Linked DNA regions of Homo sapiens. The protein of the gene in region 1 purifies or fractionates together with the protein of each later gene. This does not show direct contact. Each region holds a gene or a part of one and is shown in the gene's direction. Other genes may lie near its edges.

Region 1 (2,654 bases):
TCAATTTCTTAAATAGGGACCAATTTATTTCTCGTTGCTGCTCATGAAATTGGCCACTCCCTGGGTCTCTTTCACTCAGCCAACACTGAAGCTTTGATGTACCCACTCTATCACTCACTCACAGACCTGACTCGGTTCCGCCTGTCTCAAGATGATATAAATGGCATTCAGTCCCTCTATGGTGAGTGACACTGGGAAAATCAGCCATTGTAGTTTTGCAATGATGGTCTTCAGAAGAGCTTTCAAATGCTACATAAAGTATTTATGATTTAGTTCAAAGCACCGTGAGAATGTTTGGAAAGCATACAAATGGGCATATATTGAAACGTATCACATTTCCCCTAATGTTCCCTTTAGGACCTCCCCCTGACTCCCCTGAGACCCCCCTGGTACCCACGGAACCTGTCCCTCCAGAACCTGGGACGCCAGCCAACTGTGATCCTGCTTTGTCCTTTGATGCTGTCAGCACTCTGAGGGGAGAAATCCTGATCTTTAAAGACAGGTCAGGCTGAAAAATTATATTTTCCTACCATTTTAATCTACAATGTTTAGAAAGGAAAACACGCAGAAACTTGATAGAGATTCTTAGACATTTAAAACAAAAACGTTTCTTCTGAGCTTGGAATCATTTAGATCTGGTGCTGCCTTTTCCCACATTTTCCTAAAATTGTCAGGTTCATTTTTGAAGGCACAGGCTGATCTGGTTCTTAGCTTCTAATTGCTGTTTCCAAATGTCTTAAGTCACAGTTACTTTTCAAAAGGCATGAGTAGATCTTTCGAATAATAATTTTATTTTTACTTCCTTTAAAAATGACATCAGGATCAACATTACATTTAATCAAGTAATTTACTTACTGATGGATCAATATGCACATGACAAACATTCAAAGAGCACAAATGAGAAGCAAATTAAAAATTTTAGTTCCCAGTTCTCCCTGTACTCATCCAGAGTCAAGACTTTTTGTGCATCCTTCCAGAATCTTTCTACACACATACAAGAATATATTTACACAGCACATACACGTATACAAACACGGCCTAGCTTTTGGAAGAGGGTATAGCACACGCACTGTTTTGCATACATTGCAGGTAATTAAAGCTTATGCTGGGCTAATTCATTTGCACGATAGAATAATTTTTCTTTCATAGAAGACATTACTCTGGAAACCTATGACGGGAGACTCACTACAGTCTTCTGAAGAAAAAGGAAAGAAATTTTCTAATGGCAATATACCTGATTTCTATCTGTCATCCAGCCTAGAAGATGAGAGAATGGGGGAAGCTGGGTGAGGCAAGACGGTGAGGAAAATATTCTAAAGGTGAAAGATTGTTTTTCAATTTACATTTCTTTTTACATATATTTTAGGCACTTTTGGCGCAAATCCCTCAGGAAGCTTGAACCTGAATTGCATTTGATCTCTTCATTTTGGCCATCTCTTCCTTCAGGCGTGGATGCCGCATATGAAGTTACTAGCAAGGACCTCGTTTTCATTTTTAAAGGTAATTACTATATCATCATTTGTTTAACTTGCCAAAGTAAACCCTCTCATAAGAAATTGAACAACACTTTAATTTTCCCTACTACAAGTTCTGGCTAATACAGTAGTCAACGGTAATGAAGAAATAACCAGGGCTGATATCATTGTATTTATATTTCATAGATGATAAAAATAAAGACAAGAAGATAAATTACCCAGAGTTGTAAATTCTCTCATTTGACCTTAGTTCATTCATTCAGTCTGCAAATTTTTGTGAAAAGCCCACTGTAAGCTGGTGACTAAATCTAAAATTTGGGCTACTACTTTACCATGAAAATCAAAGATGCTAAAGTGTATTTCTAAAGCGAAAGGGCTTAACTGTTATAATTCAATATGACTCTGAATTATTTATATTTAACAGGAAATCAATTCTGGGCTATCAGAGGAAATGAGGTACGAGCTGGATACCCAAGAGGCATCCACACCCTAGGTTTCCCTCCAACCGTGAGGAAAATCGATGCAGCCATTTCTGATAAGGAAAAGAACAAAACATATTTCTTTGTAGAGGACAAATACTGGAGGTGAGATGCAAGAGAAATGACTTTGTATGGAGCCTAATTAGGGAAATTAGTTTCTTTTACTAAGGAAATCCCCCACCCCAACCTTAGGCCTGCTTCTCTCTTAGTAGGAAGGATGGGACTTCAGACAACTGTGGGAAAGTTCTTACTTTAAAACAGCAGCACCTTAGGCTCTCCTGCTTTCAGTCCCAAGTGCAGTTGGCTGGTGCTTCCCTTGGTGCTGTCACCCCACCTGCCTGGAGCCCCCTCTTCTCTCCTCAACCTATTCAAATCTTGCCCATCCTTCAAGTCCTGGCTCAAGTCTCATCACCTCCATGCAGCTTTCCCTCGTGGACTTTAGACCCATTGGGAAAATGTTCTGAGAACCCAGACCGCAATTTAGCGTTCCCTTCCCATTGTCTTTTAGTTTGGCTCACTGTCTCACTGTGTGTTTGTCACTGTCTCATTGTGTGTTTGTTTTGTCTTCCTAACACTACTATATGATTTTCAAGGGCTACCTCTAACCTCACCCACTTGTCACCTCTACCTGATAATGATGGCTCATTTAAGAGATGATGATCAATAGCAGTCCAGTTTATGGATACAACCCAACACTCAC
Region 2 (4,068 bases), on another chromosome or scaffold:
TCCTGGCTAACACGGTGAAACCCCGTCTCTACTAAAAATACAAAAAATTAGCCGGGCGTGGTGGCGGGCGCCTGTAAGTCCCAGCTACCCGGGAGGCTGAGGCAGGAGAATGGCGTGAACCCGGGAGGCGGAGCTTGCAGTGAGCCGAGATCGGGCCACTGTATTCCAGCCTGGGCGACAGAGCGAGACTCTGTCTCAACAACAACAACAACGACAACAACAACAACAACAACAACAACAAAGGTTAAGATGGTAAATTTTATGTTCTATATATTTTACCATAATTTAAAAAAAAAATGACTGGGCCTGGCGCGGTGGCTCACGCCTGTAATCCCAGAGCTCTGGGAGGCTGAGGCAGGAGGATTGCTTGAGTCTAGGGGTTCAAGACCACCCTGGGCAACATAGTGAGACCCCCGTTTCTATTAAAAATTAAAAATTAGCCGGGTGTGGTGGCACCTGTCTGTAGTTCCATCTACTTGGGAGGCTGAGGTGGGAGGATGGCTTGAACCCAGGAGGTCGAGGCTGCAGTGAGCTGTGACTGCACCGCTGCACCCCATCCTGGACGACACGGTGAGATCCTGTCTCTAAAAAAATAAACAAACAAACACACAAAACTACATTGATGCCAAGAACAATTACTGCATGCTCACTATGCATTAGGCATCTTGCTAAGCTCTTTACCCGTGTCATCTCGTTTGTCTCACATACTCCCTGAAAGGTAGGGTCACTAACCTATTATATTTTACGGATTGGCGACAACCTCAGAGAGGTTAAGTCACTTGCCCAAGGTCACACAGCGAGTCTCAAGCCCCAGCCGGTGAGCATCACGATCCTTTGCCAATGAGCCGATGCTCGAGAAAGGGTCGGATAGACAACAGGCACTGCATAAAGGTTGGTTAACGGGATCGTGTTTGGCTGCAACGTGGAGCTCCCGGGTCGAACGGCGAGACAGCTGCGCGTCCCCGAGCCGCCGCGCGCCCGGTCCGCCGGGGCGGAGTCAACGCCGCGGATTGGCTGCTGAGAAAGGGGCGTGGCTCGTGGCGGCCGGTGGGCGGAGTCGATCTCTGGCCGTAAATACGGCGCCACATGGCACTGGCTCGCGAGGGCGGGGGCGGGCGGGCTGGCCGGGCGCAGGCGCGCTGAGGGCGGGCGCCCCTCGGCCTCCGTGGCCCCTCCGGCGGCCGCGACGTCTCGCGAGAAGACGACCGGTAGGAGGGGCTCCTGCGCCGGGGGCGGGGCCGGCGAGGGCTGCCTCTGGGGGGTCCGCTAGTCGCGGGGCGGCGGCGGCGGCTGCGGGCGCGAGGTGAGGGGCGCGAGGTGAGGGTCGCGAGGTGAGGGGCGCGGCGGGCGGCGGGCTCGGGGCGCGGTCTCCCTCTCTCTCGGCCAGTGCTGGGCTCCCAGGGCCCGGGCGGGGGTCCCGGGCCGCGCTGAGGGGCGCGGGTCGGCTCTCCTTAACCTGGCCTGGCGGGCGCGGCTTGGGCCTGGGTTCGAGTTCCCGCGCCGGCGCGCAGTGTGACCTTGGCCCTGCGCGCGCCCTCTCTGAGCCCCGCTCGTCGTCCTCGGCCAGGGGGACCCAGCCCTGGGGCCCTGATCAGCGCGTTCTGCGGCTCCTCGGGGTCTGGACGAGAAATCTGTGGTTCTGATTCAGCGACAGCAGAGGCTGCAGCGGCCCCGCCGGCCCCCAGGAGTCCCCCTGCCCGGCATCAGCCTCTGCCGCCCGGCAGGGGTAGGACCAATTCCCGGGCTTGGAGTTCCAGGATCCCCAGCTCCCGAGGGCCCCCGTGTGCCTGCTGTCACCTGAACGGGGCTCCCCGGCCCCGCCGACCGCAGCCCTGGAGCCTGCAGACGCCAGCAGCACCGGCAGGTCGCTCAGGGTATCCCTTAAATGACCTCTCACTCCAGAAGCCGCAGCCCTGCCCCTCTGGGAGAGGAAACCGTGCATTTAGTCCGGGAACAGTGGGACTTAGACCTCCTCTGCGGGCTCCCGGCCACCGAGACACCGCCGGCAAAGCCTTGGCTCGGGCAGAGGCTCCGTCTGGCAGGCAGCACAACAAGCCATAGTGTTTCCAGCATTATTAAATTATTTAGTTCATAAGCGGGGCTGTGGGGACTCGGAAGCCCCGGGGTGAATAGGAATGTGAGTTGCAGGCGCGGTGCTGGACGCAGTACATCTTCCAGGACACCAGGCCCTACGGTGCTGTTCCCGGCTGTGGGTGGTTGGGGACAGCTCAGCGGGTCCCCCACTTACCCCCACGCGGGGACCCGGGTTAGCCCCTCACCGTGAGCATCTGGTGTTGGGAGTCAGGGCTGGTGTCTGAGTGAGGATGGAGAGAAAACAGGGGTAATGAGGAGATTGCTACACGAAGGTGCAACGCTTGAGATCTGAAAGAGCACCTGCCTGGAATGGCATAGATGTTTGATTTCCCTGCAAAGGAGTTTATGGGACTTTGGGCTGACGCTTTGGGGCCAGCAGTAACTGTCTGCTGTCACTCAGCTGACTCCAGCTTTATTATCAAACCTCCAATCGAGTGCAAGATGCTAAGCTGGGGTAGATGCCGGTAATAGCGTGGGCCTTGCCCTGGGAGCTCACGGCCAGCCTGGCTACAACTGTGTGGAGTTGAGACTGTGGTGCAGGCGTTAACAGAATGTGGCGACATTTTCCGACATTTTCCACAGTGGAGAGGACCTATGAATTGGGGCGTTTGGAGGCAAAGGGCATGCAGAGATGTGGAAGTGAAAGTGATGTTTGGGGGAGATGGTGGGTCGCCGTGTTCTTGATGAAGTGGGGTTTGAGGATTGGGTTGGAAGCTAAGACTGGAAGGCCGGGCGAGGTGGCTCGTGACTGTAATCCCAGCACTTTGGGAGGCAGAGGCGGGCGGATCACCTGAGGTCAGGAGTCCGAGACCAGCCTGGCCAACATGGTGAAACCCCATCTCTACTAAAAATACAAAATTTAGCTGGGCGTGGTGGTGCACACCTGAAGTCCCAGCTACTTAGGAGGATGAGTCAAGAGAATAGCTTGAACCTGGAGGCGGAAGTTGCAGTGAGCCGACACTGGGCCTCTGCACTCCAGCCTGGGCAACAGAGTAAAAAAAAGACTGGAAAGATGGGTTTCTGATTGTGCAGGGGCCTGAATGCTGTGTGAGGGAGTTTAAACTTTTATCCCTTTGGTGGTGGTTTGGGTGCGACGCGATTAGATGTGTTTCAGAAAAGTGGTCGTGGTGAGAATATGGGAGGTGGGTTTTGCCTCTGGGCAGTGGAGCTGAGTTGAGTAGCCTTGTGGGGCGTGGGTCTGGGGCAGTGAGAGAGTGGGGGCGGGCATGGAGCTGAAAGATGTTGCCAAATCCACTGGGCGGTGGCGCTTTGTGAGATGTGGCGACCTGTAACAGCGAGGGCAGCCGGGACTTCTCACCTGCGATGAGGAGCGCTGCGGCCAGGTGGGAGAGGAAGGGCCACACAAACACACGTGGGTTTTAGACCTGCAGAGTTGGCGGTATTGGTGGCCATCCTGGAGGAGATGTGACCTGGTGGAGAAGAGACAGCCTGTACAAGGAGGGAATCCCCAGGAACCCCAGTGGGAAGGGATCCAGAGCTGAAGAGAGGCCCGTTGGTTGGCTGACCTTGGGCGTGCAGTTCCTTGACTACGCACAGTCATTGAGGCTGGCAGGTGATTCTCTTCTAGTGTGGGTCAGGGGCTGAAGGAGCCATCAGTGGGAAAAGACGGGTTATTGATGATACTGAAACACATGCGGCTTGTTTGTCATTTAAAAAAACCGTACATCTTGAGTTTCGATTCTTAAGTTGTCTTTCTTTTCGGAGAGTAGCTGTTAGTTTCACACTTGCTTAGTGGGTCTGTGGCTGCAGGCGGGACTGTGGTTCTCCAGCCCTGGCCCACAGATGTGCCTGGAGATAATTGACTCTCCAACTTATTACTTCCTGCTGTTAAGGTGGTGGTTTCTGTAACTGTTTAGAAACTTTAAAGATATTTCAGAGAAGAATGGGAGACAGGTACAGTTGAGTACGGGGTGGGGGCACAGTTGAGTATGGGGTGGGGGCACAGTTGAGTAC
Region 3 (3,500 bases), on another chromosome or scaffold:
GACCAAACTCATTCCTCCTCTCCTTACGAATTTCAGTATAACTTGTTCTAAGCTAACTTTTATTGAATGTTGTGGGCTGACTGCTATTCTAAGTCATTTGCTTCTCTCAAACACCCTAAGAAGTGCTTTGACCCATTTTACAGATGAAGAAACTGAGACCCAAAGAGGTTAAGTAACTTTCCAAGTGGCGAACACAGGTGGCAGAGAAGATTGAAGATTCAAACTCTGGCTGTCAGCCTCCAAAACCTGAATTTACCACTGATCTCCATGGCATTGGTTTGGATTAGATTACCTTTAACATCTTTTCCAACTCTGAGATTCTAGGATTCTCTGATGTCAGGACATTATAAACCTATTATAACTCTCCTAAATTTGTCAAACCAATTCTAGATCTCTATGATTACAGACATGATACTTTTAGAATCAATATTTAAATCAAGGTAGGATTATTACACAGAAAACACAACTGAGTAGAATCTACCTTTGCCATGTTGTTCTTTTCAGAATTGACCCTAAAACACAGCGCTATGTTTGTCAGAGCCAGTCATTTGTAATGTGTCAGAATTTCGACTCTAGGCAAGTGCTAGGAGCTAAAATGCAGGTTCCTTCAAACTTCCAAGTAGCTGCGGTGCCAAGCTGATTTCGATGAGTTGAGTTCTTACTGAGCAGTTCAAATGACCAGACTGTAACCAGGGGCTTCATTCTCTCACCCACGAAGCACTAGGGCAGTCAAGGGGAAAGACTGACGCAGAAGGAATGAGGTTCCCATGGGCTGGGTCCAAAAGACCTAGAGCGAGTGCTTAGTTGAAACATTTGCCAAAACCTCAAGGAACACCCACACAAAAATAAGAAGTTGCTCGGCACAGAAGTCAGGGTAGGGGATGTTCTTCGAAGGCCACACTCCATGGCAGGCATACAGCAGCACGCTTAAACATGGTTCCTGTTAAGGCTAGAGAGGCACCATTCACATAGAAGAAGTCATCATCGTGACTCTACCCACCCCGCGCCCCCACCGCGTAATTGAATGCTGAGTGTGGACGGCACTTCTTCCAGCACTTGGCTGCGTTACCGTGCTCAGTTGGCAAGCCTTGGGGGAGAAGAGAGGTTCAGAAGGAAGACCATCTGAGTCCATCAGAACAATGTGTGCTTTTAACAAGGCAGGGGCGCCCAAACTCAGTAGGTCCAACAGACCAAGTTATGCTATGAAGGTCTTGTGGACCACCTACCCCCGCCAACCAGTCACCACTTAAAAGATGAGAAAACGCCAGCTCACAGGCCAAATGGGAGGCATTTAGAAGAGACACCAATGAAGAGATGTCTGGCTTTGTATTAATTACTGTAGGTAAATTAATACCAAATGCCAGGAAGTAAAGTAGAGGCATTTTCCTATTATAAACCCTTGGGACAAGCCCAGAGACCACCAGCAGTCCAGGGCTTGTGTACGCTGAGAACTGAGGGGATAACAGAATTGTGCAACACCTTGGTGCCCCACCGCCCCCGTTACCAAATCTCACAGTTCACAGTATCGCCTTGGCACACTGGGCTTGTGTAATACTCATGGACTTGACCTGGAATCACAAAGCGGACTCAGCTTCTGTTACATTCATTCACCCCAGTGACTCTGGGCACACACTGTGCCTCTGAAGGAGGCACAGTGGCCATAAATGGAAATAGCATTTGCCTGCTTCTGGGGACCTTGGTCATAGACTTCTGAGGCTTTCCTGGGAGCCAGTCTAAGATAATGGGTAAGAGTATGGACTCTGAAGGCAGAGTCCTCTGCTTGGAATCCTAGCCCTGCCATTTCCCAACTGTGTGGCCTTAACAAGCTACTTAGCCTGCCTGTGACTCAGGCTCCTCATCTATAAAATGGGCATAATAGTTCCTACCTCATAGGGTTGTCATGGTGATTCGTGGGCTAATATTAAAGGAGATTTCTCAACCTCAGTACCATTGACATTTGGGGCCGGATAATTCTTTGTTCTGGGGGCTGTCCTGAGTATTATGGGATGTTTAGCAACCTCCCTACCCTCTACGAACTGTTGTGACAACCAAAATTGTCTCCAGACATTGCCACATGTCCCAAATATTTCCTAGGGGGGCAAAATTGCCTCCAGTTGAGAACCACTGTATTAGATTATGTCGTAGATACAAATAGCCAAATATCAGCAATTTCACGTGGTTCAATCTAACAATTATAAAGTATTTAACAGTTAAAACTCTTTGAACTTTGTAGATACATTTATGTGCTTCATCTGGGATAAACGAACCCAATGCTTTCACCAGACGCTCAGAAGAATAAAAAACATGGAGAATTTCTAGCTTGAATTCAACGTTCACCAGCCAAATAGAATTTCTATAAAGTGGGGTTTGTAATACATCCCTCCCAGGGCTCTTTTAAGGATACTGCAAGGAGAATGTGAGTGAGAATGTTTTTGTGGGCTGGAAAGTGTCACAGAGATATCATGAGAATGCTGGCTGAGTTCACGGGACTCAGGTCCTAAGGTTGACAAAGAAAAAGGACCTTTGTCACAGCTACTTCTCTGGATTTCTGAAAAGGTGCTGGGATGTCAGACATGTGTAGCCGAAGGAGTGTTGTGGGGCAGTTGGAATGGGGGGTATGGCTGGCTGCACAGGAAGGTTTCTCTGGGAAGGCACCAACCTGGCTAGTCAAGAGGATCGGTGGCTTCATCTGGGGTGAAGGGGGCCCTGGGGTGGGTAGATCAGTGACCGGCCACTGGACAGCTGAATAGGGGAGCGAGATTCCCTCAGATCCAATGTCAGCAAGCCTTCTGGGTACTGAGACTCCTCTCCTGTGTTCCTCTTATTTTATTGATACATAATAAATGGACATATTTTGAGAGTCCATGTGGTATTTTGATATATTCAAAAATGTATAGTAATCAAATCAGGGTAATTGGGATATTCATAACCTTAAACATTTATCGTTTCTTCATGCTGGGAACATCTGAATTATCCTCTACTAGCTACTTTGAGATATACAATAAGTTATTGTTTACTGTAGTCATTCTACTGATTCAATGAACACTGGGTCTTACTTGTTCTGCGTACTCGTATTTTTGTACCCATTAATTATATCTCTTTGCCCCAATCCTTATTACCTTTCTTGCCTCTGGTAACCACCAATCCACTGTCCATCTTTATGAGATTTACTTTCTTAGCTCCCACATGAGTGAGAACATGGTGTATTTGTCTTTCTGTGCCTGGCTTATTCCGCTTAGCAAAACGACCTCCAGTTCCAGCTGCATTGCCACAAATGACAAGATTTCATTCTTTTTTCTGGATGAATCATATTCCATTGGGTATAGATACCAGGTTTTGTCTATCCATTCATCTGTTGATGGGCACTTAGGTTGATTTCATATCTTGGCTATTGTGAATATTGCTGCAGTCAACATGAGAGTGCAGACCCCTCTTCCATATTCCGATTTCCTTTCCTTTGGATACATACCCAGCAGTGGGATTAGGGATCATACGGGTGT
Region 4 (4,174 bases), about 91 Mb from region 1:
TCTAACTTCTCTGATTCTCCACTACCCACTCCTTATTACGTTTTTGAGACTTGTCAAAGTTTTATATTAGGGCTAACTGGGACGCATACAAATCTGGTAACTTCGCCAGGGCGGGAAGTTAGGAAGGAGCAGAGCTGGCTGCAGGTGTCTGGTCCTGACCACTCCTCTATGCCACCCTTGAGGAGCTTGCTGACTTTCTCATGACGTTCTCCCATTCCAGGAGCTGCAAGTGCGTTATCCTGGCTGGAGCACGGTGTCAATCACGGCAGACTAAGGCCAGCGGTGATGGCTTGAATGCCAGGCTGGGGGCTGGGATTTTTCCTGAGGATTTCACAGGACAGAGGTTGGCTTGGAAAGACCAAGGTGGGACTGAGGAACATTCCCCCTACCCCCAACCTCGGTGGGCTGTTGCAAGCCTGGAGGCCAGAGAAGACGGGCCTGGGATGCCGCGGGCGCAGGGGCAGGCAGTGAAGGAGATGGCTGCCTTCGGTAGAGCTGGTCGCTGAGGCAGAAGAGGAGGGCGTGGGGCGTGGGGCGTGAGGTGGCCGGCGCCCCGGCTGGCCAATGGCCGGGCTGCGGCCCCTCCGCGGGGCGGGGTGGGCCTGGTGGGCGGGCGGGGCTCGGGGCGGGGGCGGAGAGGGAGCCTGGTGGGCGGGCGGGGCGCGTCTTGCGGGCTCCCTCGGGTACCGGCGCTGCCGCACCCCGCCGCGCTCCCGCACCCGCGGCCCGCCCACCGCGCCGCTCCCGCATCTGCACCCGCAGCCCGGCGGCCTCCCGGCGGGAGCGAGCAGATCCAGTCCGGCCCGCAGCGCAACTCGGTCCAGTCGGGGTGGGTGAGGGGCGGCGGCGGGGGAGGGGACGACTCTGCTGAGCTCAGCCTCTCTTGGTGGATGTGGGGCGGGGCGCTCGAGTAGGACCCGACGCCAAGGGGAGGGGGCTGACCTGTGCTTGGTCCACCCCAGGTAGGGGCTGAGAGAGGCTTGAGGTGGAAGTGGGGGTCGGGCACTCTGACCTGGTCGAGGAGGGGCTAGGGTTTGAACCGGGGACAGAGTCTAGGTGAGCTGGGGCTTGGGAGCTATTAGCGTAGAGGATCCGGGTTCGGTTGCTCTGGCGAGGGCTCCAGCATCACAGGTGAGGAGCAGAGCTCAGCTTGTGCTCGAGGATGGGGGTGCGGGGTCCTGGGGCGATCGGGGCTCGGGCTGGAGCGGGTGGGGTCGCGTCTTTTCGGGTGTAGGGGAGCTGCGTTTTCAGGGGCCTCGGTTTCCTCCCGTCTCCGGGCGGGTGCGGGAAAGAGGGGCGCCAGGGGCGGGCGGCGGGGCGGAACGGGGCGGGGCGGCGGGCCCAGCGAGGGGGGTGGTCCGCGCGCCTCTGATCGCGTTCCGGGACACACAGGCGGCGGCTGCGGGCGCAGAGCGGAGATGCAGCGGCTTGGGGCCACCCTGCTGTGCCTGCTGCTGGCGGCGGCGGTCCCCACGGCCCCCGCGCCCGCTCCGACGGCGACCTCGGCTCCAGTCAAGCCCGGCCCGGCTCTCAGCTACCCGCAGGAGGAGGCCACCCTCAATGAGATGTTCCGCGAGGTTGAGGAACTGATGGAGGACACGCAGCACAAATTGCGCAGCGCGGTGGAAGAGGTGGGTGCGCCCTGGCGGCGCGGGGCTCTGAGAAGCGCCAGACTGGGGGCAGCGAAGTCTGGGAAGGCATGGAAGAGCGCTGGCCAGGGACCTCGGGTCCCGCGCAGGGCCTGGGAAGGGCCGACAGCAGATGCGGAGTGACCTGGAGGCAGCGCACGGTGATCCCTACTCCCGCCTCGTTTTGCCTCCTTGCCAAAAAGTCTGGATCTGAGCCTGTCCACCGAGAGGCTCTGCACTGGACCCTCCCTAGGTAGCTGGGGCCACCACCTGCCTGCAGTTGGCGTCAGGCATGCCGTTGGCCTTCCCTATTGTCAGCAGAGGTTTGCAGGGCCCCTGGTATTCCAGCACTGTGGTTTCACAGAAACCCGGGACAAGCTCCAGGCATCGCCAAGTTCTAGCTTGTCCGTTATGCTTTGAGCTTGTTAGGATGCCATGCAGGGACAAAGAGGCAAAGAGCCCTGAGCTTTGCTGGCAGTCTGTCTGGGCTGTCTTGCTTCTCACGCAATGTGGGGGCAGAGAGGGAAGATGGAAATCCTAAATCTCAGCACTGTATGAGTGGCGGATGAGGATGTGAGAGGCAATACCCCCTCCACCCAACGGTGCTTCGCAGTTGTCCTGGGCTCAGGTCCTCCTCTGCCACTCAGTAGCAGGGTGACATTGGGCAAATCACTTAATATCCTGCACCTCAGTTTCCTGTGAAAACTAAATGTCATATGTGTGGGCACCTGGCAAATAATAGGTGCGCAGTATTTAGCAACTATTATCAGATACCACGTACCTTAGCAAAGCTTTGCCTAGCTTCTGCCCTCCATCACCTCCAGGTCTAAACACTGTGGGTGGCATCTTGTTCTGTCCTCTGTGATGGTCACCCACGCATGCCCAGGGCTACCTGGGCAGGAGATGTCACTGGCCCAGCCCTCTCTGTCCAGGTGCGGGGAGCTGTCCCTGGTGCCTGGGGTGGGTAGACGAGGGCGCTGTTGGGCCCAATCTGTCTGTAGCCTGTGTCTATAGAGAGGAGCCAGCCGTCCTAGTGAAGGAGGCAGCAGGAAACCAATGTCCAGGCTGGTTGGCCCCTGGTCTGGCTTCACATCCCTGCTGTCTCCAGCTTGGTATCCCCCTTGGGCAAAGCCTTAACTGCTGGCCCTTGTCTCCAGGGGGAAGTTGCTTTCTCCCCGCAGCCCTTTGTAGTTTGGGGCTATTTCCCCTCCCACTCCACAACAGTTAGCCTGTGGAGTTTGCAGTGAAGGGGACACTGGCTTGGGAGGCAGTGAAATGGGCAGCTGTCCTTGAATATCCACTGGACAGGCCCAGATCCCAAGACCCATGATCTTTCTGTTTCCTGTGATTGCAAAACAATCATGACATGGAGCAATTAAAGGGTGAAGGGATTCAGATAGGCCCCAATGTCTCTTAACTCTGAAGCTTCAAATTAAGTGGAGTTTGCGATGCCTCTGGTTCTAGGGCAGGCCATCTGCTTTCCTTATCCAGGTTCTAGGACTTTCCCTCCTGCACACAGATTCCCGGTAAGACTGACTAAGTCACCTCTATGTTTTTGTGCCCACCACTGTTCAGAAAGTCTGCAGCGTGGTCCTCTGACGTTAGCTTCTGCTGAGGGAGGAGAGAGAGCAGCAAGGGCCTCTTCAGTCTCTTCTTGAGCAGAGCAGTGTGGGGCCCTGCAGGACCTAGTGACGGGGTCTTCTCCATGGGCGTTATCCAGACTGGATTTTGCCAAGACCCCAGCTTTCCTCCCTCTAGATGTGGCTCTGTGTAGGTTGGGGGGTTGAAGTTTGCCACCAGAGGAGATGTGGGCTGTCACTTCTACCCCACTCTTTCCCAGAGGTGTCCTCGCTGGCAGTGGGTACAGGATGAGAGAGGTTGAACACCATGGCAGGAGAAGAGGCAGTGGGGACTGATCTTCCCTCATCCAGTCCCTGCTCTGCCACTTACTGGCAGTGGCGTTCCGAGTCTGAAGTGGAGAAATGTCCACCTCTTAGGGTAAGGTGAGAATTAAATGAGATGCTGCAAGTAAAGCAAATCAGTGAGTTGGGCAGCTATCCCTGAATATCCACTGGTCAGGTCAAGAGCCCAAGATCCATGATCTTTGTTTCCTGTGATTGTGAAACTATCATGACATGGAACAATTAAAGGGTGAAGGGAGTCATATAGGCCCCAATGTCTCTTAATTCTGCAGCTTCACATTAAATTGAGCTTGTGATGCCTGTGGTTCTAGGGCAGGCCATCCGCTGACTGCCTAAAATGGGGTTAAGTAAAACACGTGTAATACAGGTAGCTTCATTGTGAGGTGGCTGTAAGGATGACATGATGGTTGGTTGTAAATAAGTAACAGGTATCATTATCATCATATTACTAGTAGCAGTATGAATGATAACAAAACACCACCAGTGTCTGATAGATTCTCAATAGAATCTATCTTTTAAAATATCTTAAACCATTAAAAATTAATCTTAAAATACTAAAAGTATCTTTTAGATATCTTCAAAAATAGAATACAATAGATTGTTTATAGACTGTGGTTATTAGTA
Region 5 (3,995 bases), on another chromosome or scaffold:
ATTAAATGATTAAATGAAAACTAGTAAGGATTTCTGATTACTTTTCTACTTTCTCATACAGCTTAACACCTGGAAACAACTGTACTGGAGCCACCTTCCCGAAAGGTGCCAGCTGTTTCCTTTGTCTTAAGCACAAACAGAACTAATGTCACATTTCCAGAGAAGGGTAAGGATGAAATAAGGCGACTACAAACCAGCTTTCAGAAATGCGAAGTCAGTCAACGTTTTCCTCTCTGATAACCCCTTATTTGTGGAGCAACAGGAGAATTACAACACATTTTGGAAAATAATTTCTATTGGACCAACTCCTCACTTCGCTGGAAGTAGTCGGATCCAAGACTTAATTTCAACACAGTGTTCGACTTATTGCTTGAAGCTACCGCAGCATAAAACTCGTCTTCGAATGGAAAATTTGACCAACTTCTATGAGGTAAATGAATAGTGAAAGTACGGGTGGGCGGGAGAGACATACAAGTTTTTTCGGTTTTTTGTTTTTTGGGGGAAGAAAGGGCGCATACGAAAAAAGTCCTAAGCAAGCACAGAACTGTGTCTCTTAGGATGTAAAAGGATGTTATACCAGAGAGCTCAAAAGCTCCCAGGGTCACGGCTCCCCTAACCGAGGGACTTGGGGTTTCACTGCTACCAGGCACCCGGGGAACCCCGGCCTTGGATAAAAAGAGGGTAACTGGAGTAAAGCCGTGCTTCTGAACGACCCAGCGCCCAGGACCCCCTGCCAGACCCCGCCTTTCCCGGGACCCCCTCGGGAGCGCCCCCGACCGCCCCGCACGGGTCGGAGGAGGAGGCAGAGAGGTCCCGCGCGGACCCAGGCGCCTCCCGGGCCAGTCGAGGATCAACCACCCCGGGGACCCCTGCCGAGGCCAGCGCAGGATAAACTCCCCGACCCCGAACTCTGCCTGCCGCTTCTCGGCGCTGGGCCTCAGCCACGGGTTCGACCGTCCTCCTCACCGCGGCTCCCGCCTACCTCGCGCCTCCCGGCCCCGCGACCTCCCCGCCGCCGGCCGGGCCCCGCCGAGGCTGCGCTTCCCGTAAACTCCCCGCCCCGCGCATCCCCCTCCTCGCCTCGGCCCCGCCCCCGCGGGACCCTGGGCGGCGCGTGATTGGCCCGGCCGCGCCGTCACTCTCCGGCCGCGTCGCCTCCCTCGCTTTCCACCGCCCCAAGACCGGCAGTGAGATTAGTGCTCGCGGGGCCGCGGCGGAGTGTACCGTGCTGCTCTACTCGCTGCCATTCGCCCGCAGGTCGGCGCGCTCGCCCACCTGAGCCGCGCCGGGGCTGCGGGACCGTGGGACAGCGCGCTCAGCCCAGCCTAGGAAAGAGGCAGCAGTCTCAGCGCGGAGATGGGGAGCGGGCGAAGTTGACGAGTCTCCCGCCCACGCTGCGCCCCTCCTGCCCAGAGGTGCGCTGCCCCTCCCCGAGGTGCTCGCGCGCTGCCCTGACCCCTTCCTGCGCGGGACACCCCTCCCCTACCCACGGGACCTGATAACTTCACCCCAAGTCCAGAGAGTGGGCTGCGAGGGCGGTGCCCGGACTGGACAGGACTCTGCTTAAGGGGAGCGGTCCTGGAGGCTCGCCAGGAGTCGGAGGGCGGAGACCCGCTGGAAACTTTATCATCGCCGTAATTACTACGTTTTACTGTTTCTCTCCCCGCAGGGGCTGCAGCCAGCGGTCTGTCGCGCGTGCCTGTGTGCCCGAGGAGCCGCCCCGGGGAGAAGACCCGGCGCGGAGTTGTTCCCCCAGGGAGGATCCGCAGCCCAGCCGAGGGGGTCGGGCGGCCTGGCTACGCAGGACCCAGCCCCGCAGCCGCGGACTCCCAGCGGCGGCGAAGTTTGGCTGCTGAGCGGCGCGGCGCCGGACCACTGGACAGCGGGAGCGATGCCCGTGGGGGGCCTGTTGCCGCTCTTCAGCAGCCCCGCGGGCGGCGTCCTGGGCGGGGGGCTCGGCGGCGGCGGTGGCAGGAAGGGGTCGGGCCCCGCCGCCCTCCGCCTGACGGAGAAGTTCGTGCTGCTGCTGGTATTCAGCGCCTTCATCACGCTCTGCTTCGGGGCGATCTTCTTCCTGCCAGACTCCTCCAAGCTGCTCAGCGGGGTCCTGTTCCACTCCAGCCCCGCCTTGCAGCCGGCCGCCGACCACAAGCCCGGGCCCGGGGCGCGCGCCGAGGACGCGGCCGAGGGGCGAGCCCGGCGCCGCGAGGAGGGGGCACCCGGGGACCCGGAGGCCGCCCTGGAGGACAACTTGGCCAGGATCCGCGAAAACCACGAGCGGGCTCTCAGGGAAGCCAAGGAGACCCTGCAGAAGCTGCCCGAGGAGATCCAAAGAGACATCCTACTGGAGAAGAAGAAGGTGGCCCAGGACCAGCTGCGTGACAAGGCGCCGTTCAGAGGCCTGCCCCCGGTGGACTTCGTGCCCCCAATCGGGGTGGAGAGCCGGGAGCCCGCCGACGCCGCCATCCGCGAGAAAAGGGCAAAGATCAAAGAGGTGAGTGGGCCGCGCCAGAAATCCCTCCCGACCGGCCGTGTTTTTCAGGGAGAAACGGCAAGCCTTTGAAACTCTGAAGACTGCAACAATGCAATGTATGGGGAGATGGAGGTTTGCCCCTTCCACCAGGTGCTGTGTCAAAAGCTCTTTCTTTTCCTGTTTCCAATATAGTAGTAGATGTGTCCAGTAAGATCTAAGGTCAAATCTCGTTGCTTTTAATTTGCATGCTCTTGCTCTGGTGACCACAAGCCACACGAGGTGGGTATAAATACATGGGCAGGTAATACGCAAACCTCATTCTCTGGCCGCTACACGGTTAATCGCCCCACCAGTAACAGCGACGGCACTGATCAGCCCCCTGGTAAGGATTGGGGACGTGGCTTTAAAGTGAGTCTTCACGCGTGGTAAAGCTAGCCAGCATACCCCGGGTTCAGCTGTGTGGCCCTTGTCTGCCAGGTGGCATTCTGTGTGTACTTTCAGACTATAAAGGTGAAACCTGAGAACTTCCCATCATCGAGGGATACTATTGTTTACTTTTTTAAAAAATGAAAATATAAAAAGCCAGTCGGCTGCCTCTTGTATTTCTAATGCACAGCCAGAAATAGGGTATTCCATGTGATGCAACAGGTTTGCCTCCACAGCAGCACAATGGTGACAAAGTTAATCCAGGATAAACATGGACTTTGATACATCTTTCCTAATTTCCTTCTCGTAATTTTCAGTTAGAACTTGAAACATGTGATTAGGTCAGGACCAGCTTAAAGCTGAAGGGGGCCGTAAAAAGTCCTTTCAGGCTGTCATTTTCAAGATGAAGATCGAAGGGCCCAGAGCTCTAGAACCCGTTAGTGATGAGTCAGGACTTGAAGCCCGAGGTCCGAACTTCCCCCAGTCACCTGTCACCACGCGGTCTGTGGACATGCCTCCTCTCTGAGCTACTTCCCTGTGTGAAACGGTGCCAGCCTGCGTTTTACATAGAAAAGCTGTAGGAACCACATTAAAAGCATGTCATTCCAAATCTTGGTTCAATTTTCTAAAATATGAATGGAAGTAATATTTTTGCCATTTAAAAAATAATACGATCTGTGAAAATAAATATTGTATTTTCATATTGGGTAGGTAATCAGGAGAGGAAGTCCCTGATCCCATTTTCAGAGAGTAAACAGATTTTTGAGGTGGTTGAGAGGTGTTTAGCTTAAGTGGCTGCAGAATGAAGGCAGCAGGATTGTCATGGGATTTGTGACTTTGTATTATAAGATCAGCTGAATTTGGTTAAGCTGTAATTGAGCAAGTTAAAGTGGACTTGGATCCCTTTCGGTTTAGGAAGAATGTCTTCATCCTTCCTATGCAGATAGCTTCCTTCCACAGTCCATCAGCATATCTGCTTTTCTGAGACCCCTCCTCAGGGACAGAACCCTCCCATACTTGGGGGAATGGATTCTACTTTCCAGAACAACTGTCTAGCAGTTTCCTTTCTCCATGAAATCCTGCCTGTGCTACCAAA
Region 6 (3,500 bases), on another chromosome or scaffold:
ATACTATCCAGTCTTAAAATTCATATTTTAAAAGAAAAGCTGGGTGTGGTGGCACACGTCTCTAGTCCCAGCTACTCGGGGGCTAAGATGGGAGGATTGCTTGAGCCTAGGGGTTTGAGACCAGCCGGCAACATAGTGAGGCCCTGTCTCTTTAGAATTAAAAAATGTTTAATAATTTAAAAAAAAAGTACACGGGAAAATGCTCCTAATATTAAATGATAAAATCAAGTTATGCAACTACATATTCAATATGCTGTCAATTTTGTGAAAAGAAGAAAAAATTATGTAATAGAAAACAGTCTGAAACAAGATGTACAACTAAATATTTATGTATTTTTTTGACTAGAGGAATTATTATCTCTTCATATTTTTCTGTGTTTTCCAGGCCTTTCTTTGGTATACTTGTATTCCTTTTTATATAAGGGGGAAAACAACCTACTTGAAAAAGCAACAACAAAATAATAACAGCAAAAACCTATTGGTGGGAGCCTGAGTCAGTATTTCTCTACTCATGAGTTTACTCAGTGTTTACCTGAGTGTTTACATTTTTTTCCGATAAAATACATTCTTGATTCCTGCTGTTATTTAGCTCATGGATTATTTCTGAAAAACTAACCAAATTAAGGCAGCTCTGCAGTTATCCTCCACTCCCGCTTACCACTTAGGAGTTTGCTCCATCTTTGGTAGAGCCCCAGGCAGCTGTTGACTTAGACATGGTGAGCTTTTTTATTTCCACTTTTGGGTTCAGTACTGAAGCCCTACTGTTAGAAAGCATTGATTACAATTTGATAAAAGATGGTCTGTCTGTGTTTTCCTTGTGTGCCATGGAATGGCTATTTTTCTGTTTAATTTTATTGTTAAGTGGCTTGAAAAATAGTGTTTTGGACCTGGGGATTCTCATCTGGAGACAAATAGGAAGTGATCCCAGGAGTTTTGGAAATTCCTACAATAGATTGTCAGCTTCTTGAGAGCAGACATGTTGCCTCTTTTAGTTATGCTAGATATTCTTAGCGGGTACCAAGGCACATAGTAGATGCATAAAATATTTGTTGACTGAATAAATTAATAAATTACCAATAAGGGAATTGTTCTTTGAGAATTAAGCTTTAAAAACAACAAAATCAGAGCAGAGATATGGAAAGGCACTTTAAGGAGACCAATGCTTTTGAGACCAACAAGATTGACTAAAATCTTAACAAATATATTAACACATACAAAGAAAGAATGTATACATCTGAAGAGTTATGTGTGCATGTTTGTGGGGGATGCAAGGACCTAATTGGCCCTAGAAATCTGAAACAGGGAGAATCACTGAAGCCAATGTCCTTAGGCCCAGAGCTAACAGTTGGCTATGAAAACTTGTACTGACATTTCCCTACCTCTGGGAAGGAGATTATACAGTTAGTTAATACGTATTTTGAGTACAGAGATAAATTATTCAATTCAGAACCATTTTTTGAGAACTTACTAGGAGTCTGCTTCTAGACTAGGCACCAGGATAATAAAGATTAGTACAATACAATCCTTTCTCTGGAATAACTACCAGTAGCAAGTGAAAAGGTAGAGGCCAGGTGCATTGGCTTATCCTAGCACTTTGAGAGGCTGAGGCAGGAGGATCACCCGAGGCCAGGAGTTCAAGACCAGCCTGGACAACATAGTGAAACCTCATCTCTACAAAAATAAAAAAAATTAGCTGGTGGTGGTGGGCACCTGTAGTCCTAGCTACTCGAAAGGCTGAGATGAGAGGATCACCTGAGCCCGGGAGTTCAAGACTGCAGTGAACTGTGATCATGTCGCTGTACTCCAGTGTGGGTGACAGAGGGAGACCCTGTCTCTTAAAAAAAAAAAAAAAAGATGCAACGCACAGAGTGCTACTGGAACCGTAGGAGAAGCATTTAGCTTGGAGGCAAAGAGGGTGCTCTAAGGAGTTCTTTCTAGAGAAGCATCTTCTAGAGAAGCTGATGCCTGAACAGAGTTGTGAAGGTTGAATTTGAAGGATTCAAAGGGTATTCCCATGCAATGGGAATGCAAGAGCAAAGGCACAAAAGTGAAACAGCCTGGTATATAGAAGAAACTCCACAAGCAGTTTAGCACTACTGGAATATAAAGAGCAAAGCTGGTATGGCAGCTCCAGAAGAGGTAGGTGGTGGCTAGGTCACAAAGGATCTTGTATGCTATGCTAAGAAGCTTCAATTTTAAACTTTTTAGGTAGATGGTCTATAAATTTTTTTCATGATGCACTTTAATCCATTGAAAAATTGAGAATGTACCCCTGTATATAAATTTATACATTATAACACGTAATTTTATACTAATGTCTTATATATGTGTAAGAGATGCCAAAAACAAAATGTTAAAGGGATTGACAGAAGCAAATATGAAGAGTTCTAATATTTTCTTTTCATGCCCGAGGGATTTGTCTTGTGCACCTCTTAAGGCAAACACTATAATACTTTAATGCTAGTATTAAATATAAAACTATTAATACTGTATTAAATATACTATAATACTGGTAAATTTCTGAATAATTTTTGCAGGAGTATAGAAAAGTGGTAATTGTGGAGATGGAGATGGATGGAAAAGGGAGGGAGGTCAGGGTTAGAGGTTAGGGTATCCATTAGCATGTTAATGAAATAGTCCAGGAGAAAGTTGATGAGACTCTGTCTTCAAGGAACCTCTCAGTAATTTCATTCAATACAAACAAGTAGAGGTAGTCCTAAAGAGATGGGTAGAATTTAGATGTTCTGTAGTAGAGAGATTAGAGGAAGTTTTTTTTTTTTTTCGAGACAGAGTCACACTCTGTTGCCCAGGCTGGACTGCAGTGGTACGATCTCAGCTCACTGCAACCTCAGCCTCCAGGGTTCAAGCAATTCTCCTACCCCAGCCTCCCGAGTAGCTGGGACTACAGGGGTGCACCACCACACCTGGCTAATTTTTGTATTTTTAGTAGAGATGGGGTTTTGCCATGTTGCCAGTCTGGTGTCAAACTCCTGGCCTTGAGCATTCTACCCACCTTGGCCTCCCAGAGTGCTGGGATTACAGGCGTGAGCCACTGCACCTGGCCAAGAAGTTTTTTAAAATTGAGATATACCACTATCTAATTCCAGAACTTTTTTCTCACCCCTAGAAGAAGCCCTGTACCCATTAGCAGTCACTCCCTATCCTCTCCTCCCCCAGCTACTAGAAACCACAAATCTGCTTTCTGACTCTATGGATTTGCCTATTCTGGACATTTCATAAATGGAATCGTACAATACGTGGCCTTTTGTGTCTGGCTTATTTCATTTAGCATAATATTTCCAAGGTTCATCCATATCCTAGCAGGTATCAGTACTTCATTTCTTTTTATGGCTGAATAATATTCTGCTTTATGGATATGCCACTTTTGTTTATCCATTCATCAGTTGATGGACATTGGGTTGTTTCTACTTTTTGGCTATTATGAACAATGTTGCTCTTAACATTTATGTATACATTTTTGTGTGAACATATGTTTTTAA
Region 7 (3,500 bases), on another chromosome or scaffold:
GCGTCTCAAAACAAAACAAACCAAAAACCCTGGGCTAGGCAACTTTCTTGGCAGAAACTACTTTGGAGCTCGACACCAGATGGTGGCAGAGTTGTCTGGGGAGCTGTGTCGAGGGCCGTGGCCTTGGGAGCAGCTCCAACCTCCCATCTGGGCTCAGAAACCAGTGTCAGACATTGGTTTTATTTTAACCTTTGAGATTTGTGTGGAGCGGGTTTTGCCTTCCCCTGTTGCTTAGATGGATTATTTAGCCATATTTTTTGTTAAATAAGGGGAGGTGGTCATTATCCGTGATTTCAGACGTGGAATCGGCCCGGCGATAGCTGCATTGTGCCCTTTCCGGTGGAGCCAGGAGGAGTTTGGCCGCCACGCTCCATGCGCATAGCATGTCATGCAGCTAGCCAAGTGCATTGTTCTGAGTGCTCCAGGATAAGTACCAACTTACTTAGTGCTCCAGGATAAGTACCAACTTAGTGCTCCAGGATAAGTACCAACTTACTTAGTGCTCCAGGATAAGTACCAACTTACTTAGTGCTCCAGGATAAGTACCAACTTACTTAGTGCTCCAGGATAAGTACCAACTTACTTAGTGCTCCAGGATAAGTACCAACTTACTTAGTGCTCCAGGATAAGTACCAACTTACTTAGTGCTCCAGGATAAGTACCAACTTACTTGATCCTCAGAGCAAGCCTAGGCGGTGGGTACTGTTTTGCTCCTGTTTTACCAGTGAGGAAGCAGGCACACAGAGGTGAAGTTGCCCAAGGTCACACAGATGGTTGAGGGAGAGCCGGATTGGAATGAACTCTGTGCTGTTAGCCACTGTGTGAGGCTGGACTGTTCCATTCCAGCCTTTACGGCCTCTTCCAGGCCATTCCCCAGCTGCACTTGGATTCTCAGGCCAGGCACCGGCGGTCTCCTGTGAGGGTGGAGAGGAAGAGGGGGCTGCGTGGCTCGGGGAGGTCCAGGAGAGATGGCGGGAGGAGTAGAGTTTGGGGCCTGCGGTGCCAGAGGACCCCCTTACAAGACGAAAGACTGGGTTCTCAGGCTCCTGAAGCAAGGAGCACCTTCAGGGGTCTCCTGGTATTCACCCATCAAGGCTTGCTCAGGTGGCATGCGTGTGTGCGTGGCGGCTGCCCCCGGGCCCGGAAGCGCCTGTGGATACCAAAGCAAGTGGAAATGCCAGATGGAAAAGCCCCGTGTTAGTCAATGCTGTAGAGTTCAGCCAGCCTCGAGTTTGCAGGTTTACAGAGCTGCCTTGCGCCTGGCTGCTGCTGCTGCTGCATTCCTGCTTCTGCCTCCAGCTGTGACCACCTCCTGCCACTCCTGCTCTCACTGTGGGTTCCTGCTCACTCTGTCTCCAGGACAGACTGCCTTCCGGGCAGCCTTCCCTCCTCAAGCCTCTTGGCCTTTGCAATCCTCTTACCTGGGTCACTGGTGGGATCTCATTTGTGGATCAAGTCGCCCCCAGTGGAGACAAATGTCTGATGGAGTCTGGCCAAGGCCCTCCTGAGCCTTCACTGGGCCCTGCATGAGAAGCCTGCCAAGGCTGAGGGGCCAGGGAAACGGAGACGAAGCCCTCAGAGCAGGCCAAGAGGGTGGGAGGTGGGGGGCATTTAGAGGGTTAGATACAGAGCACCCCTTTACAAATACCAGCTACTGGCTTTTCGTATTACATGTTCATTTTAGATACAACATACTGCACACGCTCCCTTAACGTGTGTTTACGCGTGGGTGGTGTATCCTTCCAGACGTCTTCCTCACATCTATACATAATATGCATAGATAAAACATTTACCACCAAAACCCATAGTGTTATGTACATATTTGTCTGGCTGTGTAACTTTAAATAACATACAAATGTATAGAACAGAAGCTTGCCCTCTTTCTGAAATATCTAACGTGGGATTTCAGGCTTTCTGATGAGACCTCTGTAGAGGTCAGTGTTTTGCCACCAGAGGTCCTTCAGCCTCCATCTGTTCTCCCACCTACCCACATTCTGGCCCCTGGCAATTCACAGGGAGTTTAGGAAGTAGACACCAGGGCCCTATTTCCTGGAGACCAGCCTGGTGGCCGATGTCATAGAGTGCGGTGGGCCTGGGCCGGCCCTGCTCTGGGCCCGTGACCTGCGTGTCTGACTCGGGTCCAGCTGTTCTTCCTGCCAGAGCCTCTTCCTGTGAGGCGGGGGTAACACAACCTTCTGTGGTGGCTGTGGGATTAATCCGTATGGCTGCATTGTGAGTAAAGCCTGGTGGAAATCTCTGTCTCCACTGCTTTCCTTTTCCTGCTGTTCACCTTGGCTCCCTCGACACTTAATCCCCCTCCACATGTGTCTGGAGCGGGCAGAGCGGGGGCAGTTGATAGAAAGGGGGCCGGGTAGTGCCAAGGCTGTTACTTTCCCCCACTGCCTCCCTTGGCTAACTTGAAGTCTGACCCTTTATACCAGAACTGTAAGACAGTGTGTCAGAATGGATTCAGTTGCAGAGCAGGAAGCCTGGATCCCAGCGCCGGACGGAAATGAGAGGTCGATGGTGCAGGCTGGTGTGGGGGTTCCTCCACCGTCAGGGCCCAGGCTCCTTCTCAGGTCTCAGTCTCACTCTTCTTAGCACGAGGTCAGGTCTCATTCCTTGGCTGCGGGAGCTCCAGCCAGCACACGTTTTAGGAAGAAGGAGGAAGGAAGAAGGTAAAGGGTGGATGGCAGCTGCCTCCTCCTCTCTTGGAAGCTCACAGAGCGCTGGGTCACAATTCCCTGGGTAGAACTGGATCACACAGGCACCCCTGTCAGCAAAAGAGGCTGGAAAAAGTATTTCTGAAGCTGAATCAAATTAAGATTCCTGTTACTAAGAAGGGAGTGATTGTATGGGCGACTACAGGGACCACGGCCATACACGGTGCCTGGAAGACCAAGCTTGTGACAGTGACGAGGATTTGGAGAGGGCAGGGTGATGGGGAGCTTTGGGGGGAGTGCATTAGGAACCCTGACCTGGAGAGGGGCAGAATGAAACCTGCGGGCCCCTAACCCTAGTGGGTTGTTTGAGAAACCTGTCCTACTGTGGCAGGGGGCTGAGTCTTCTCAGGGTCATGCATGAAAACTGAAATTCCTGAAGGCCACACACAGCCCCGGAAGTGCTGACTGACAAGGGCACATGCCAGTGATGCAGTTTTCTTTTTTGTCTTCACTTTTGTTGTTCCGCCGTCTTCAACACATGGCTCCCAGCTCACAGCAAATGCTGCCCTGGTTCAGCTACCAGGAAGCAGGAGAGGGGAAGGGAGGGCAAGCCTCATTCTTTATGGAACAAAAGCAGTGGGCAGACAGCCTTCCCTCACGTTCCACTCACTGGAATGTGGTCTGGCTGCCTTCCCTGCAGGAGGTGGGATGCACCCTCAGTGCAGCAGCCCTGCCCCAGCCAAAAACGTCTCAGCACAGCTGTAAGAAGAGGAAGATGGCTAGAGACAGGCAGCCTTCCCTGCAAGGGCAATGAGGCAAGCCTGCCAAAAGCCTCCT

The links.
Region 2: the proteins of MMP3 (region 1) and CHST12 purify together in Homo sapiens (co-immunoprecipitation; one large-scale study listed by IntAct). This does not show direct contact.
Region 3: the proteins of MMP3 (region 1) and TIMP3 purify together in Homo sapiens (affinity purification with mass spectrometry; 2 studies listed by BioGRID and IntAct, with this or other methods). This does not show direct contact.
Region 4: the proteins of MMP3 (region 1) and DKK3 purify together in Homo sapiens (co-immunoprecipitation; one large-scale study listed by IntAct). This does not show direct contact.
Region 5: the proteins of MMP3 (region 1) and MAN1A1 purify together in Homo sapiens (co-immunoprecipitation; one large-scale study listed by IntAct). This does not show direct contact.
Region 6: the proteins of MMP3 (region 1) and KIAA0319L purify together in Homo sapiens (affinity purification with mass spectrometry; 3 studies listed by BioGRID and IntAct, with this or other methods). This does not show direct contact.
Region 7: the proteins of MMP3 (region 1) and MGAT1 purify together in Homo sapiens (co-immunoprecipitation; one large-scale study listed by IntAct). This does not show direct contact.

What each region holds. Positions count from the first base shown.
Region 1 is NC_000011.10:102,837,956-102,840,609, reverse strand, and holds part of MMP3 (stromelysin-1 preproprotein), read left to right. Parts: intron 1-16; coding exon 17-181; intron 182-357; coding exon 358-502; intron 503-1,366; coding exon 1,367-1,500; intron 1,501-1,899; coding exon 1,900-2,059; intron 2,060-2,654. UniProt on the Homo sapiens protein: Metalloproteinase with a rather broad substrate specificity that can degrade fibronectin, laminin, gelatins of type I, III, IV, and V; collagens III, IV, X, and IX, and cartilage proteoglycans.
Region 2 is NC_000007.14:2,402,343-2,406,410, forward strand, and holds the start of CHST12 (carbohydrate sulfotransferase 12), read left to right. Parts: upstream 1-1,268; 5' UTR 1,269-1,331; exon of another isoform or gene 1,332-2,688; coding exon of another isoform or gene 2,689-2,758; intron 2,759-4,068. UniProt on the Homo sapiens protein: Catalyzes the transfer of sulfate to position 4 of the N-acetylgalactosamine (GalNAc) residue of chondroitin and desulfated dermatan sulfate.
Region 3 is NC_000022.11:32,853,705-32,857,204, forward strand, and holds part of TIMP3 (metalloproteinase inhibitor 3 precursor), read left to right. Parts: intron 1-3,500.
Region 4 is NC_000011.10:12,005,827-12,010,000, reverse strand, and holds the start of DKK3 (dickkopf-related protein 3 isoform 1 precursor), read left to right. Parts: upstream 1-1,374; 5' UTR 1,375-1,418; coding exon 1,419-1,631; intron 1,632-4,174. UniProt on the Homo sapiens protein: Antagonizes canonical Wnt signaling by inhibiting LRP5/6 interaction with Wnt and by forming a ternary complex with the transmembrane protein KREMEN that promotes internalization of LRP5/6.
Region 5 is NC_000006.12:119,346,962-119,350,956, reverse strand, and holds the start of MAN1A1 (mannosyl-oligosaccharide 1,2-alpha-mannosidase IA), read left to right. Parts: upstream 1-1,195; 5' UTR 1,196-1,415; intron 1,416-1,669; coding exon of another isoform or gene 1,670-1,891; coding exon 1,892-2,494; intron 2,495-2,500; exon of another isoform or gene 2,501-2,587; coding exon of another isoform or gene 2,588-2,623; intron 2,624-3,995. UniProt on the Homo sapiens protein: Involved in the maturation of Asn-linked oligosaccharides. Progressively trim alpha-1,2-linked mannose residues from Man(9)GlcNAc(2) to produce Man(5)GlcNAc(2).
Region 6 is NC_000001.11:35,547,404-35,550,903, reverse strand, and holds part of KIAA0319L (dyslexia-associated protein KIAA0319-like protein), read left to right. Parts: intron 1-3,500.
Region 7 is NC_000005.10:180,785,807-180,789,306, reverse strand, and holds part of MGAT1 (alpha-1,3-mannosyl-glycoprotein 2-beta-N-acetylglucosaminyltransferase), read left to right. Parts: 3' UTR 1-3,500. UniProt on the Homo sapiens protein: Initiates complex N-linked carbohydrate formation. Essential for the conversion of high-mannose to hybrid and complex N-glycans.